Regions from separate parts of the Homo sapiens genome. Here region 2 is linked to region 1. Evidence: fine-mapped expression QTL. Tissue or cell type: lung. Region 1 holds a variant in brackets; the other region holds the start of a gene. All regions are shown on one strand. Distances are from middle to middle.

Region 1 (8,000 bases):
GGCTATGGGAAATATTTCATAGTGATCATTCTCTCCTTGATATGCTTTCTTCCCTTGGCTTCCCTTAACTCTTGGTTTTCCTCACTGATTGGTCCTCCTCAGACTCTTGCTAGCTTTTCTTTACTCCAAATTAATATTAGAGTGCCCCAGGTCATGGTCACTGGGACTTTGCTCTTCTCTATCTACGCTTGAGCTATCCCTTAGTTAGCTCGTCTGGGCTCAGTATGCTGGGAGTTCCCATCTCTATCTCCAGCCTGGCTCTCCTCTTAACTCTAGGCTAGTATGTCCACCTGGATGCCTGATACACATCTCTGACATAACATCTTGAAAACTAAATATATTTTGATCTTTCCTGCTCAACATGCTCCATATTCAGACTTTACTATCTCAGTTATAACAATTCTATACTTCTAGTTTCTCAATCCAAAAGCCTTGGTCATCTTTGATGTCTTTCTGTCGTACCCATGTCTAATCTCTAAGGAGATTCTGGTGGTTCTATCTTCAAAATATATACAGAATCTGAACACTTCTCCCACCTCCCTGCTACCACCCTGGTCCAGGCACCATGCCTTCTAGCCTGGATGCTTGTAGTGTATCGGGGGAACCTGCCCCCAATATTTCAACATAGGTTCTTTCTATTTTTCATAAGTGTTGGCTGGCTGAGAAATAAAGAGAAAGAGTACAAAGAGAGGAATTTTACAGCTGGGCTGCTGGGGGCGACACCACATATCAGTAGGACCGTGATACCCACCTGAGCCACAAAACCAGCAAGTTTTTATTAAGGATTTTAAAAGGGGAGGGGGTGTACGAACAGGGAGTAGGTCACAAAGATCACATGCTTCAAAGGGCAAAAGGCAGAACAAAGATCACATGCTTCTGAGGAAACAGGACAAGGGCAAAATCAGAATTACTGATAAGGGTCTATGTTCACTGTGCACATATTGTCTTGATAAACATCTTCAACAACAGAAAACAGGGTTCGAAAGCAGAGAACCAGTCTGACCACAAATTTACCAGGGCGGAGTTTTTCCCCCACCCTAATAAGCCTGAGGGTACTGCAGGAGATCAGGGCGTATTTCAGTGCTTATCTCAAATGCATAAGACAGACACTCCCAGAGCAGCCATTTATAGACCTCCCCCAGGAATGCATTCCTTCCCCAGGATATTAATTATTAATATTCCTTGCTAGGAAAAGAATTTAGCAATATCTTCCCTACTTGCACATCCATTTATAGGCTCTCTGCAACAAGAAAAATATGGCTGTGTTTTTCCCAACCCCGCAGGCAGTTAGACCTTATGGTTGTCTTCCCTTGTTCCCTGAAAATCGCTGTTATTCTGTTCTTTTTCAAGATGCACTGATTTCATATTGTTCAAATACATGTTTTACAATCAATTTGTACAGTTAACACAATTATCACAGTGGTCCTGAGGTGACATACATCCTCAGCTTACAAAGATAACAGGATTAAGAGATTAAAGTAAGACAGGCGTAAGAAATTATAAAAGTATTAATTTGGGAACTGATAAATGTCCATATTAAAATGAAATCTTCACAATTTATGTTCCTCTGCCATGGCTCCAGCCAGTCCCTCCGTTTGGGGTCCCTGACTTCCCGCAACAGTAGTGGACTCTACCTGGCCTCCCATCTTTGCATCCCTATAGACAATTCCCAATGTGGTGGCCATAGCGATCTGTTAAGGCACAAATCAAATCCTGCCGTTCTTATGATCCAAACCATGCAAAGCTCTGCATTTCACTTAAAGTAAACCAAAGTGCTAATATTCAGTAAGCTTACACAAAATCTGACCCCTGATATCTCTCTGATTTCATTTCTTAGTATTCATCCTCTTATTTACTTGGCCCAGTCTCCTCCACCCCTCTGTAACTGCTTGCTGAATTCTCTCACGTCCTGCAAGCCTTTGCTAAAAAGTGCCGTCTGGACTGGCACGGTGGTTCACACTTGTAATCCCAGCACTTTGGGAGGCCAAGGCAGGTGGATCACAAGGTCAAGAGATCGAGACCATCTGACCAACATGGTGAAACCCTGTCTCTACTAAAAATACAAAAATTAGCTGGGCATGGTGGCGTGCACCTATAGTCCCAGCTACTTGGGAGGCTGAGGCAGGAGAATCGCTTGAACCTGGGAGGCGGAGGTTGCAGTGAGTCAAGATCGTGCCACTGCACTCCAGCACAGTGACAGAGTACAACTCCATCTCAAAAAAACAAAAAGTGCCTTCCAGGTGAGGCAAGTTTTTAAATGGCCCTATTTTAAGTTGCATTCCCTCTTCATTCTTGATCCTCCATATCCCACGCCCCCCGACTTTTTTTGTTTTTTTTTTTTGAGACAGGGTCTCAGACACCCAGGCTGGAGTGCAGTGCCGTGATCATGGCTCACCACAGCCTTGACCCAGGCTCAGGGGATTCTCCCACCTCAACCTCCTGAGTAGCTGGGACAACAGTCATGTGCCACCACACCTGGCTAGTTTTTTTGTGTTTTTCGTAGAGAAGGGCTTTCACCATGTTGCCCAGGCTCCTATCCTACTTTTATCCATAGCAATTAATCATCTTTTAACATAATATATACTATAATTTACTTATTCATTTATATTTATTGCACATCTCCCTTCTTGAGGATGTAACCTCCATGAAGACAGCATATTCATACATTTTGCTTTCTGGTGTATCTCCAGCCCCCAGAATAGTATATGAAGCAATGTAGGCACTGAATAAATATTGCTGAATAAATGAATGTTAGAGGGGTGCATACATGTGCCACAGCTCTTCCAGGTCCCAAGTAGCAAATAAGACAATCCCTTAGTCCTGTGCTGTGATAATTTTCAAACCTTACACCATGTAAGTTTTAGTCAACAGAAATCTGAACAATCAAGTTGCATTATTTTAGTTTTACAGGGGAAAAATGACATCATGTTTCCTAATCCCTGGCCAATGATCATTTCCCAATTCCAAAGAATAGATTGCTCCTCCAGCAGCCACTGGAGCTTGGCACTCTTCCCAGTATAGCACTTGCAGTGCCGGGCTGGGCTGTCACCAGGGAGCTGAATCTAAGTTGTCCCAGTTGGTGAAATCTAATGTAACCCATCTGTGATCACAGTTGACAACAGGAAACCACTGTGCTGGTGTCCCCAGTGCTTCCCTCTAACAAAGTGAAGCTGATCATAGTTAGTTAGGTGTTTATTTATTTATTTATTTATTT[A/T]TTTTTGACATGGAGGCTCACTCTGTCGTCCAGGCTGGAGTGCAGTGGCGCGATCTCAGCTCACTGCAACCTCTACTTCCTGGGTTCGAGTGATTCTCCCACTTCAGCCTCCCAAGTAGCTGGGATTACAGGTGCCCGCCACCATTCTCGGCTATTTTTAGTAGAGATGGGGTTTCACGATGTTGGCCAGGCTTGTCTTGAACTCCTGACCTCAAGTGATTCTCCTGCCTCAGCCTCACAAAGTGCTCGAATTATACGTGTGAGCCACCGCGCCCAGCCCTAGTGGGTTTTAAGTCGTGAGTTGGCCTAATTTCTTTCACATACTCCCTTTTTAATCTCATTCCCTATTTTTTAAAATTCACTTTTTATTTTAGAAAAGTTTTAGGCTGGGTGCGGTGGCTCATAGCTATAATCCCAGCACTTTAGGAGGGTGAGGCAGGAGGACTGCTTGAGCCCAGGAGTCCAAGACCAGCCCTGGCAACATAATGAGACTCTACAAAAAACAAAAAGTTAAAAAATTAGCTGGGTGCAGTGGTGCACACCTGTAGTCCCAGCTACTCGGGAGGCTGAGGTGGGAGGATCACCTGAGTCCAAGAGTTCAAGGGCTGCAGTGAACTCTGAATGTGCCACTGTCCTCCAGCCTTGGCAATAGAGCAAGACCCTGTCTCAAAAACAAAAATAAAAATAGAAGTTTTAGATTTATAGGAAAATTGGGAAGATAGTACAGAGAGCTCCCATATACCCTGCATCCTATACCCTAATTTCCCCTATTATTAACATTTTACATTAGTATTTGTATTAGTTTGTTAGGTCTACCAAAATAAAGTACCACAGACTGGGTGGCTTAAACAACAAACTTATTTTCTCACAGTTCTGGAGGCTAGAAGTCTAAGATCAAGGTGTCAGCAGGGTTGTTTCTTTGCAGGCCTCTCTCTTTTCAACTTGTAGATGGCTTCCTTTTCCCTGCATCTTCACGTGGCCTTCTCTCTGTGTGTCTATGTCCTAACCTCCTTATAAGCACACCAGTCATATTGATTAAGGCCCACCTGTGTGACTTTGTTTTACCTTAAGTACTTTTTTTTTTGAGATGGAGTTTTGCTCTTGTTGCCCAGGCTGGGGTGCAATGGTGCGATCTCCGTTCACTGCAACCTCCGCCTGCCGGGTTCATGTGATTCTTCTGCCTCAGCCTCCTGACTAGCTGGGATTACAGGTACACGCCACCACGCCTGGCTAATTTTCGTATTTTTAGTAGAGACAGGGTTTCACCATGTTGGCCAGGCTGGTCTCGAACTCCTGACCTCGGGTGATCCACCCGCCTCAGCCTCCCAAAGTGCTGGGATTACAGACATGAGCCACTGCGCCCGGCCTCTTAATTACCTTTTTTTAAAAAGCCCTATCTCCAAATATAGTCCCATTGTCAGGCACTGGTGATTAGGACTTAAACATATGGATTTGGATTGGGGGCATACAATTCAGTCCATAACAGTATTCGTTCTCTATTTATAACCTCTGAACTGGATTCTACCTTTCCACCCTATCCAGATTCCTTGCTTCTTCAAGAATAAGAATGAGTTGGGGCTTTCAAGTCAAAAGTTCAAATCTCAGCCAGGCGCAGTGGCTCATGCCTGTAATCCTAGCACTTTGGGAGGCTGAGGTGGGCGGATCACTTGAGCCTAGGCCTTTGAGACCAACCTGGGCAACCTAGCAAGACCCCGTCTCTACAAAAACTAAAAAAATTAGCTGGGCATGGTGGCACATCCCTGTAGTCCCAGCTACTCAGGAGGCTGAGGCAGAAGGATCACTGGAGCCCAGGAGGTTGAGACTGCAGTGAGCTATGATTGTGCCACTGCACTCAAACCTAGGTGACAGAGTGAGACCCTGTCTCAGAATAATAATAATAATAATAATAATAATAATAATAATAATAATAAAAGTTTAAATTTCAGCTTCCCTACTTTGTAATTGACTGACTTCAAGCAAATAATCTTGTCTATAAATCCATGAAGAGTGCTAAGCCATCACTGGAATACATTAGCGAAAAACTTGTATCAGGTAACTCAGGTCTCTATATAAGACCCCTTAAAAAAATCTGAAAATGTAAATTAGTTCCCATTAGTAGGCTGTGCCTTGTAGGAGAAAGAGAAATGAAGACCCTTTCTCACTAACATGAACCCTTCCTTCCCACACTCCCAGATAAAGGTTAAACACATGTTAAAAGAACCTTGGCTTAAAGGGGAGACAGATTATTAGACTGTCCTGCCATTTATATTTCCTGAATAGGACCTGCCTCTTCAGGGGCCAGAGGTAATGAAGGGTGCTCTTTTCTCTGTCTATTTGTACCTCCTCTGAGATCATTGTGTTATTAAACTTTACTATGCATCTTATTTAGAAATTGCTTAATCGCTCTGGGCACGGTGGCTCACGCCTGTAATCCCAGCACTTTGGGAGGCCGAGGCAGGCAGATCACGAGGTCAGGAGATCGAGACCATCCTGGCTAACACGGTGAAGCCCTGTCCCTACTAAAAATACAAAACAATTAGCCGGGCATGGTGGTGAGCACCTGTAGTCCCAGCTAGTCGGGAGGCTGAGGCAGGAGAATGGCATGAACCTGGGAGGCGGAGCTTGCAGTGAGCCAAGATCGCGGCACTGCACTCCAGCCTGGGCAACAGAGCGAGACTCTGTCTCAAAAAAAAAAAAAAGAAAGAAAAAGAGATTGCTTAATCACTGCCTTATGACATTTCGCACTATGATCCGACACCTATTATTTCTTCTTAGGTGTACTTTGTAATCTTTTTTACATGTACTGTGTAAGTGGATCTTGCCCCACCTTGACTTCAAGTTCATGGAGGACAGGACTTCCATCTCTTATTTTCAAGGTTTCCAATGATGTACCTGATAAATTTGTTGCTAGGATGAGAACAGTATATCATTGAGAATATTAAATTAAGTTTTAAAATTTGTTGTTGCTTTGATACAGGGTAAAATCCAGTACAAGGAATATATCATTGAAGGATTTGAAAACATGCCAGCTGCATTTATGGGAATGCTGAAAGGAGATAATTTGGGGAAGACAATAGTGAAAGCATGAAAAAGAGGACACATGGAATCTGGAGGCCATTTAGATGATTAGTTAATTTGTTTTTCACCATTTAGCAAAAATGTATACTACCTTAAATGTCTTAAGAAATAGTACTCATAATGAGTTTGAGCTACTTAATAAAATACATTTAAGTGGTATGTAATTAGTGATGGAGGATGGAAGTTTCAAAGTCAACAACAACCAGTCACCTCACTGTTCACTACAGCTTCTTCTGAGTTGTGGTAGAAAATAATGGCTTTGAAGTGTGAAAATTTTCCAAACACTGTATGTTTTCATTCATAAGTGGGAGCTGAACAATGAGAACACATGGACATAGGGAGGGGAACAACACACGCTGGGGCCTGTGGAAGCCGGGGTGAGGGAGGGAGAGCATCAGGATAAATAGCTAATGCCTTCGGGGGCTAATACCTAGGTGATGGGTTGACAGGTGAAGCAAACCATCATGGCACACGTTTACCTATGTAACAAACCTGCACATTCCACACAATTATCCCGGAACTGAAAATAAAATAAAATTAAATTAAAAAAAAAAGTTAGCCGGGCGTGGTGGCTCATGCCTGTAATTCCAGCACTTTGGGAGGCTGAGGTGGGCAGATCACGAGGTCAGCAGTGCAAGACCAGCCTGACCAACATGGTGAAACACCGTCTCTACTGAAAATACAAAAATTAGCTGAGTGTGGTGGCACATGCCTGTAATCCCAGCCTCTTGGGAGGCTGAGACAGGAGACTCACTTGAACCTGGGAGGCGGAAGTTTCAGTGAGCTGAGATTGCGCCACTGTACTCCAGCCTGGGTGACAGAGCGAGACTCTATCTCAAAAAAAAAAAAAAAAAGTTTACTGCTTCTGTGACCTTAGACTTCTGATTTTTCATCTTTAAAGTGAGGATAATAACATCTTTCATATACATGTTATACATTTATTTAAAACACCAGCATAGGCCGGGCGCGGTGGCTCACGTTTGTAATCCCAGCACTTTTGGAGGCGGAGGCGAGGTCAGGAGTTCAAGACCAGCCTGGCCAACATGGCAAGACCCTGTCTCTACTAAAAATACAAAAATTAGCTGGGCATGGTAGCGGGTGCCTGTAATCCCAGCTACTCAAGAGGCTGAGGCAGGAAAATCGCTTGAGCCCAGGAGGCAGACGTTGCAGTGAGCCGATATTGTGCCATTGCACTCCAGCCTGGGCAACAAGAGCAAAACTCCATCTCAGAAAAAAACAAAACAAAACAAAACAAAAAAACAACAGCATAATGCCTGGCATATATTAGGTAAGTGTTAGCTACCTCCCTGCCGATATCAGTGATTTTGAAGTCTTAAGATTACCACCCCTATTGCTTGTGATTATGCCAGAAGAAATAATCACTGCAGGCATATAGGGGTCTTAGGGCCAGTCCATACTGGTCCTCTACAGATGAGTCTAATTATTCAACACACCAAAGAAGGAATCTGTCATTCACAGAGCTGCACAAAAGATAACACACAGGAATGTCTATACATCTACAAAAATGTGCAAGATTTATATGAAGAAAAACTTAAAACATTACTGAAGGGCCAGGCATAGTGGCTCACACCTGTAATCCCAGCTCTTTGGGAGGCTAAGGTGAGATCATTTGAGTCCAGGAGTTTGAGACCAGACTGGACAATACCCCACATCTGCAAAAAATTTTCAAATTAGCTGGGCATGGTGT
Region 2 (8,131 bases), 34 kb before region 1:
CAACCCTGCTACTGACTAGCTATGTGATCTTGTCTACGTTGTTTTACCTCTCAGACTTTCAGTTTCCTGAGGCTCCAAGGAAGATGATGGTAATATTTGCTTCTGAAACTGCCCCTATAAACTTTATAAAATTAGGCCGGGCACGGTGGCTCACACCTGTAATCCCAGGACTTTGGGAGGCTGAGGCGGGTGGATCACCTGAGGTCAGGAGTTCACGACCAGCCTGACCAATATAGTGAAACTCTGTCTCTACTAAAAATACAAAAATTAGCCTGGCGTGGTGGTGTGTGCCTGTAGGCCCAGCTACTCAGGAGGCTGAGACAGGAGAATTCCTTGAACCCGGGAGGTAGAGGTTGCAGTGAGCCAAAATCATGCCACTGCACCCCAGCCTGGGAGACAGAGCAAGACTCCATCTCAAAAAATACATAAAATTAATCAGGAAAGAAGGGAGGGAGGGAGAAACAAAAACAAACCAAGCTGGCAGCAGGTTCAGCATTCATGATTAACTCGGCACACTCTCCCATCTGCTTCCTCACACTTTGGTGCCTATTGTTCTAGAATCACTAGACCCAGTTACAAGATTATAGTTCACCTTAACTGCTCTTTAAATAGCAACTCGAACATTATGAAATGTTGTTTTCACTTTGAGATATTCCTTCAGGTCCTGATATGGAAGAAACTACTGATGTCAGCTGAAGGACCACACTGATGCAGCTGTCCTGAAGGACTCCCCGAGGAGCTACCTCATCAAAAAATACAGTTTCCACTTTGCGATGATTTTATCCCCCTTGCCCCAACCGACCAGCAACCCCAATTTTCCAGCCCCTCACTCTCCACAATCCTCTTAAAGCCCCAGGCCAGAACTTCTTGGGAGACAGATTTGAGGGTTTCCTTCCACTTCCTTGCTGGGTGGCCTGTGATCATTAAACTCTTTCTTTGCTGCATCCCTGCTGTCTTAGTGTAATTGGTCTATACTATGCAGTGGGCATGCAAACCTGTTGATGACCCCTCCTTGGGTCATCATGAGGACTAGAAATACTGGATACCAAGGGCTATTCTAGTGCAAGATTGCATCTCCTCTGTGCTGTGCAGAGAGGATAATCACTATCTCTTCAAACGCAGTGTCCCACATATATTCAGGAATTCCTGCAATTATGAGACAAATATTACTGTTTGTTGTTATAATTATTTCTCAAGCATTATCCCACCAGACCAATGAAATGGAAGTTGTAGAGAAAAAAGTGGGGGACAAATCTGTCTGTTTTTGTTTGTTTGTTTGTTTGTTTTTGAGAAAGAGTCTTGCTCTGTCGCCCAGGCTGGAGTGCAGTGGCATGATCTTGCCTCACTGCAACCTCCACCTCCTGTATTCAAGTGATTCTCCAGCCTCAGCCTCCCAAGGAGCTGGGACTACAGACGCCCGCCACCATGCCCAGCTAATTTTTGTAGTTTTAGTAGGGATGGGGTTTCACCATGTTGGCCAGGCTGGTCTCGAACTTCTGACATCAAGTGATCCACCCGCCTTGGCCTCCCAAAGTGCTGGGATTATAGGCATGAGCCACCACCCCTGACTAAGTCTGTCTGTTTTTGAAGTACAAAAAAAAAATCCAAAAGAAATTTCCACCAAACAGATAACAATGACTTTTGCTTTTTATAGCGTACACATCTGTATCATCTGAATTATTTGATAAAAAAGCATTTTTTAATTACTTGTTTGTTACTGCTTTATTGTTTTAAGTGAACTGTTCCCTCCACAGTTAGATCAGAACTCATTGAAACCTAAGATCAGAGAACTGAATTGAGTAGAGTTTTGTCTTGGGGTAAAGCAAAGGAAAATCTTTTTCCTTGATCCTTTATTCCATATTCTAACTCTCTGTGTGCGAGTATGTAACAGCCGTGATTTAACTTAATCACCATGACTTGACAAGCTGCAGCCTTTGAGACTGACTGAGTCATCAAGTTTGGGAAACAGATTTTGTTTGACCTGGTGCGGCCCAATCTTATCTGTATCTTCAATTTAAGGACAAGTGAGTAAATATGTGAGCCACTCTGTGTTTCTGGCACTTTTTTCTCTTATTCTTACTTTGCAAAGACTTTTTATGCCTGCAATTTTATTAACACTTCTAATATCCAAAAGAAACAGTGATTCTGTAACAAGTTATCTTAAAAGAAAAAAAAAAGAGAGAAGCAGAATGCGATATGTAACCCAATACCGTTTCTATAAATTAAATGTATATGACCACAGTGCACATTATGTAAGAACATGGAAAAAAAAACTGTATGCAAATCAAATACATCACAGTAGTTACCTATAGTAGGAGGAGAAAAGCAGGAAATTGAGTTTTTTTGGTTTTCTTTTGAGACGGGATCTCACTTAGACACCCAGTCTAGAGTGCAGTGCCACGATCGCAGCTCGCTGCAGCCTCCACCTCCCAGGTTAAAGCTATGTTGCCCACGCAAGTCTTGAATGCTTGGCCTCAAGTGGTCCTTTTGTCTCAGACTCCAAAAGTGCTAGGATTACAGGCATGAGCCACAGCACCCAGCCTGGGAATGGAGTTTTGTTTTATATTAAGTTACATAAATTAATGAGAAGGGAGAGAGTGAGAAAGAAAGAATTTGGCAGACCAGTGGGGATAAAGTGCCACCAACTCTGATTAGTGTGAAGAATTCAACTCTCGGCATTGTGTTTTTAGGGTCCATCCAAGTTGCTTTATGTACATGGAACCCAGTGCTTCTGATGCTGTGTATATCCTGTGGCATGCGTCCACCACGCTTGGTCCACACACTCTGTTATGGGCTGAACTGTGTCTTCCCCAATTTCATGTGTTAAAATCCCCAAGTCCCAGTACTCAGAATGTAACTGTATTTGTAGATAGGGCCTTTAAAGAGGTAATTAAGGTTACATGAGGCCATATTAGTGAGCCCTAATCCATTTGACAGTATTTGAAGACAAGGCCTTCAAAGACGTGTTTAAGTTAAACGGAGGCTGACAAGTGGGGCTCTAATCCAATATGGCGGGTATCCTTACAAGGAGAGACATTGAGCCAGGTGTGGTGGTGGGCCTGTAATCCCAGCTTCTAGGGAGGCTGAAGGAGGATCACCTGAGTCCAGGAGTTCAAGGCTGCAATGAGCTATGATGCCCACCATTGCACTCCAGCCTGGGTGACAGAGCAAGACCTCAAAATAATTAAAATTAAATAAATAAATTAAAGACATTGAATCTTCACAATGACTGGAAGTTAGGCATTCTTCTTATCCCCATCTTGCAGATGGCTGAACTGAGTGAGGCAAGGAGAAGGTAAGTAAGTCTTTGAAAGCTACACCACTAGTAAGTGGCAGGTGCAGGCTTCGAACCTGCAGTCGTCTAATACCAACGACTTAGCTTCACGTTCAACCCCTGCCTGAGACCACCTCTCCTTGCAGAAGCCAGGTCAAGGCCTGATGTTTGCTAGGGTGTGATGGGTGGGGTGCCTCAGTGGCAAGAGTGCTCACTCCTGCCTGGGGGAGTCTGGCAAGGGTTCACAGAGGTGACCTTGAATTGGCTGGTGGAAGGCGAGTAGGTGTTCAGCAGGCGGACTGGGGACAGACAGGCAGGGTGTCTGCACCGCAGCCCTGGGCGAAAGCTTGCACTGCGGGCAAGCGGCAGGGCTGACGGGGAGCCCAGGGATCGGAGCCAGCACCGGGGGCTTATTAGGGCTGCGGCCGCCCCAGGCCCTGCCTTTGGACCCTTCCGGCCTGCTTGGCAGATGCCACGGTTGGTTCCCCCACGGGGCATATTTCCGCCGGGCTCCAACTTAGGACCCCAGGCGGAGGTCCAGTGTCAGCTGGACAAAGCTCTGTTAGGAATTTTCCTATCAGGAGTCCCTAACCCCCTACACGCACACACACGGGCGCGCGGGCGCGCACGCACACACACGCACACATGCACACATACGCGCGCGCACATGCACATAGGCACACAGAGATACGCGCACACACACACACAAACGCACTCAGATTTCCCGGACCCTGGTTTTCCTCCTGTGACCCTTTCGGGGCCGGGCTCTCACCCTAAAGAAGCAGCCCCGCCCTGGGGTGGCCCCACCCTCTCTTGGGACCTGTCATAAGTCGGACCCCGGGCGCCCGGCTGCGCAGTCCCAGCCGCCTTCCCCAGGCAGTGGAACCTTCGGGCTCCTGTAAGTAGACCTCCTGCTTTCTTTCCTTCCCTTTTCTCCCTCCTCTAACCCCCTTGCTTTCTTCCTGCCAAGTTTCTAGACGCCCCAGTGGAGGAGGTTTGCTCTTAGACCTCCTCCCCTTACGTCGAAATGACCGCTGGGTCTTGCACTCGGAGGATCTTGGGAGCCGACGTCCCGACGCCTCCCGCCCCCGCAGTTCCTTGGAGAGCTTGGAGCCGCGCGCCGGAGGGAATAGGAAAGCTTGGTTACAACCCGGGACACCCGGTAGCTTCCTGCACCCGGGAGGGGGCTGGCCAGGGAACTTGCTGGACTGCACAACTGGGGGAGGGTAGAAGAAGAAAGATCGGGGTGGGGATTCGGGAATGGGCAAGCGGGCGGCGGGCGGCGGGAGGCGAGGGTGGGAGCAAAGGGCGAGCGGGCAAAGGCCGGGCGCCGCGCCAGGCCCCCTCCTCGGGCGGGCGAGACTTTCCCGGGACCTGGCCCCTCTGCGGCCAGACCCTTTCCAGGAGGGCTTCTGGACTTGTAGCGAGTTTGGAAGCCCAGCGGTTGCTTTTTTGGGGAAAGGGACAAAGATGTGTGAACTCTAAAGAAGTTGAACTCATAGAAATAACGACTAGAATGATGGTTGCCAGAGGCTGGGAGCGGGTTCGGGGGGGAATGGGGGCTTGTTGGCCAAAGGGTACGAAGTTCAGAGACGAGAGGAGTAGGTTCTGAGATCTGTTGCACAGCAGAGTGACTAGAGCCAATAATGTGTATTTCGAAATAACAGAGTAAACTGCAAATGTCTCACCGTAAAAATGATACGTAGGGCCTGGCGCGGTGGCTCACGCCTGTAATCCCAGCACTATGGAAGGTCGAGGCGGGCGAATCATTTGAGCTCAGGAGTTCTAGACCAGTCTGGCCAACATGGGGAAACCCCGTCTCTACTAAAAGTACAAAAATTAGCTGGGCGTGGTGGCGGGCGCCTGTAATCCCAGCTACTCAGGAGGCTGAGACAGGAGAACCGCTTGAACCCGGGAGACGGAGGTTGCAGTGAGCTGAGATCGCGCCATTGCACTTCAGCCTGGGCGACAGAGCGAGACTCCGTCACAAAAAAAGTCTTAATTTTAAAAAAAGAAAAGAAGGAACAACCCCGGGCTGCAGATCAGACCGCCCCCCTGGCTCCCTCGCAATGCGGGAGTGCTCCCTCCAGGTCACCGTGTCCCCTCCCGCGGCACCGGTAGGGGAGCTGGGGAGATCACTGGCAGCTCCAAATGGTTTCGTAACTGGATTGTTTGTAGCGGATGCACCCGCGGGAAGGCGCAGGTCCCAAGTGATTCGGCAGAGTTCAGTCCAAGCAGAACATCCTGAACCCCCAGCTCGGGGCAGCCTTCATCATCTTCCCTTGCTTTGGTGCAGCGTTTCAGCTCAAAATCGGTTTGGTGTGGAGTTTAAACTCAAATCCCTACTGGGCCAAAGAAAATTCGCACCCGATGGCTGAGTGCAAGTGGTTCACACCTGTAATCCCAGCACTTTGGGAGACCGAGGCGGGCGGATCGCCTAGGCAACACAGTGAGGCTCCTCTCTACAAGAAAAGAGAGAAAAAAAAGTATTTAAAAAAAAAAAAAACGCACCTGAAAATGGGGCGGAGCAGCGGCGCCCTCCGGTGGTTTTCAGGAGTTCTGAGACTGCCTTGAAATGCGTGGCTGTTTCCATCTGAAAGAGGTGCATGGACTTCTATCTATTGGGTTCTTTGTGTTTGATGCTTTTTCTTAGAATTCACTCCATGTGAGATGAGAAACGGAATGGAATATTCGCACTTCCGGTAACTGTTCAGTGCCGTAGAGAAACTCTAGCCTAGCAGTGGCTGGGAAGAATTTCTTTGTTGTTTTATATTTTTTCCTTGTCTTGAAGATTTCTTTAAACCTCAGTTTCCTCATCCGTACACTGGCAATGATACTAATGTCTATCTTATAGGGAAGTTATAAGGATAAAATGAGGTAATCTATATGAAGTGCTTAGCACAGCACCAGAAACATAGTAAATGTTAAATGAATGTGGTTGGCATGATATGATAATGATGGGATTTGAGGATATTGTAATTGTGCTGTCTGGTCTCAGTTTGACGGCTAGAGAACTGTTAGAATGCAGTCACTTCATGGCAGTTGACTACATATTTACTGTGTTCTAGGAGCTTCAGGATGGTTCGTACTAAGACATGGACCCTGAAGAAGCACTTTGTTGGCTATCCTACTAATAGTGACTTTGAGTTGAAGACAGCTGAGCTCCCACCCTTAAAAAATGGAGGTAAGTCATACTAAAAATATTTCAGAGTTGGAAGGGACTGTATCAGTTAGCTTTTGCTGCATAACAAACTACCCCAAAGTTTAGTGACTTTAAGCAACAACGGTTTATTAGTTCACAATTCTTTGGGTTGGCAATTTGGGCTGAGTTAAGCTGGGTGGTTCTTCTTAGGTCTCATCTGGGGTAAATGGTTAATTTAGGATGGGCCTTGCTCACATGTCTGCTGATTAGCAGGCTTTCTGTTGGGGTGCATGCCTTAGTTCTCATCTATGTGGCCTTTCTAGCAGGCTAGCTTGAGCTCTATTCTTATAGTGGCCCCATAGATCTAGAGCAGCAGTAGTTGGCAAGCTCCAATGTGCAAGCACTTTCTCTTTTTTTTTTTTTTTTTTTTTTGAGACAGAGTCTTGCTCTGTTGCCCAGGTTGGAGTGCAGTGGCATGATTTTGGCTCACTGCAACCTCTGCCTTCTGGGTCCAAGCGATTCTCTTGCCTCAGCCTCCTGAGTAGCTGGGATTACAGGTGTGCGCCACCATGCCCCCCTAATTTTTGTATTTTTTCTGAGATGGAGTCTTGCTCTGTCACCCAGGCTGGATTGCAGTGGAGCAATCTCGGCTCACTGCAACCTTTGCCTCCCAGGTTCAAGCAATTCTCCCTGCCTCAGCCACCTGAGTAGCTGGGATTACAGGCGCCCACCAACACGCCCGGCTAATTTTTTTTTTTTTTTGTATTTTTAGTAGAGATGGAGTTTCACTGTGTTGGCCAGGCTGGTCTCGAACTCCTGACTTCAGGTGATCCACCTGCCTCGGCCTCCCAAAGTGCTGGGATTACAGGCGTGAGCCACAGTGCCCGGCCTTAATGTTTGCATTTTTAGTAGAGACGGGGTTTCCCATCTTTGCCAGGCTGGTCTTGAACTCCTGACCTTAGATGATCAGCCCGCCTTGACCTCCCAAAGTGCTGGGATTAAAGGTGTGAGCCACCATGCCCCGCTGTGCAAGCCCTTTTCAAGCCTCTACTTGTGCCACGTTTGCTAATATCCCATGGTCAAAGCAAATCACAAAACCAAGCTCAGATTCGAGAGGCAGAAAATAGATTTCTTGATGGGAGAAGTGGCAAGGAGACAAGCACACAAGGGTGGGAGTTATTTGTGGCCATTTTGCAATCTGCCACAAAGACCTTTCCAGGGTTCTCAGTGTGAATCCTCGATGTCACATGGCAGGATTCCCCTGCTTTCATTGATAACTGAAATTCATGCTTGAGTGCATTACTCTTCATGGCTTTGACCAGACTATGGGGAGGATGTCCTCTCTATCCTCATAAGCCTGATGATGGCAGTGAGGTAAGCACTGCCCAGTAGCTATACGAAGAGTTCAGACTATAAGATGAGTCTCGGCTGGGTGTGGCGGCTCACACCTGTAATCCCAGAACTTTGGGAGGCTGAGGCAGGCAGATCACAAGGTCAGGAGATCGAGACCATCCTGGCTAACACAGTGAAACCCCATCTCTACTAAAAATACAAAAAATTAGCTGGGTGTGGTGGTGAGCACCTGTACTCCCAGCTATTTGGGAGGCTGAGGCAGGAGAATAGCATGAACCCGGGAGGTGGAGATTGCAGTGAGCCAAGATCGCGCCACTGCACTCCAGCCTGGGCGACAGAGCAAGACTCCATCTCAAAAAAAA

What was found. PIP is the estimated chance that this variant, and not a neighbour inherited with it, causes the effect.
Region 2: it holds the start of PTGR1, and the variant in region 1 is fine-mapped to the expression of PTGR1 in lung (TOPMed, PIP 0.92).

Annotation. Positions count from the first base shown.
Region 1 is chr9:111,561,423-111,569,422 of GRCh38, reverse strand. It overlaps PTGR1 (prostaglandin reductase 1), which reads left to right. Exons shown (of 10, transcript NM_001146108.2): 10 at 6,192-6,856. The coding sequence ends at 6,302. It also overlaps a transcript of ZNF483 not described here. Among named protein-coding and RNA genes, the nearest start is that of PTGR1, 34 kb to the left of the region's middle. The variant A/T (reference allele first, on the strand shown) is at 3,215.
Region 2 is chr9:111,595,644-111,603,774 of GRCh38, reverse strand. PTGR1 (prostaglandin reductase 1) reads left to right here and starts at 4,128. Exons shown (of 10, transcript NM_001146108.2): 1 at 4,128-4,172; 2 at 6,343-6,458. The coding sequence starts at 6,353. It also overlaps the pseudogene LRRC37A5P. RefSeq lists an enhancer at 3,705-4,277.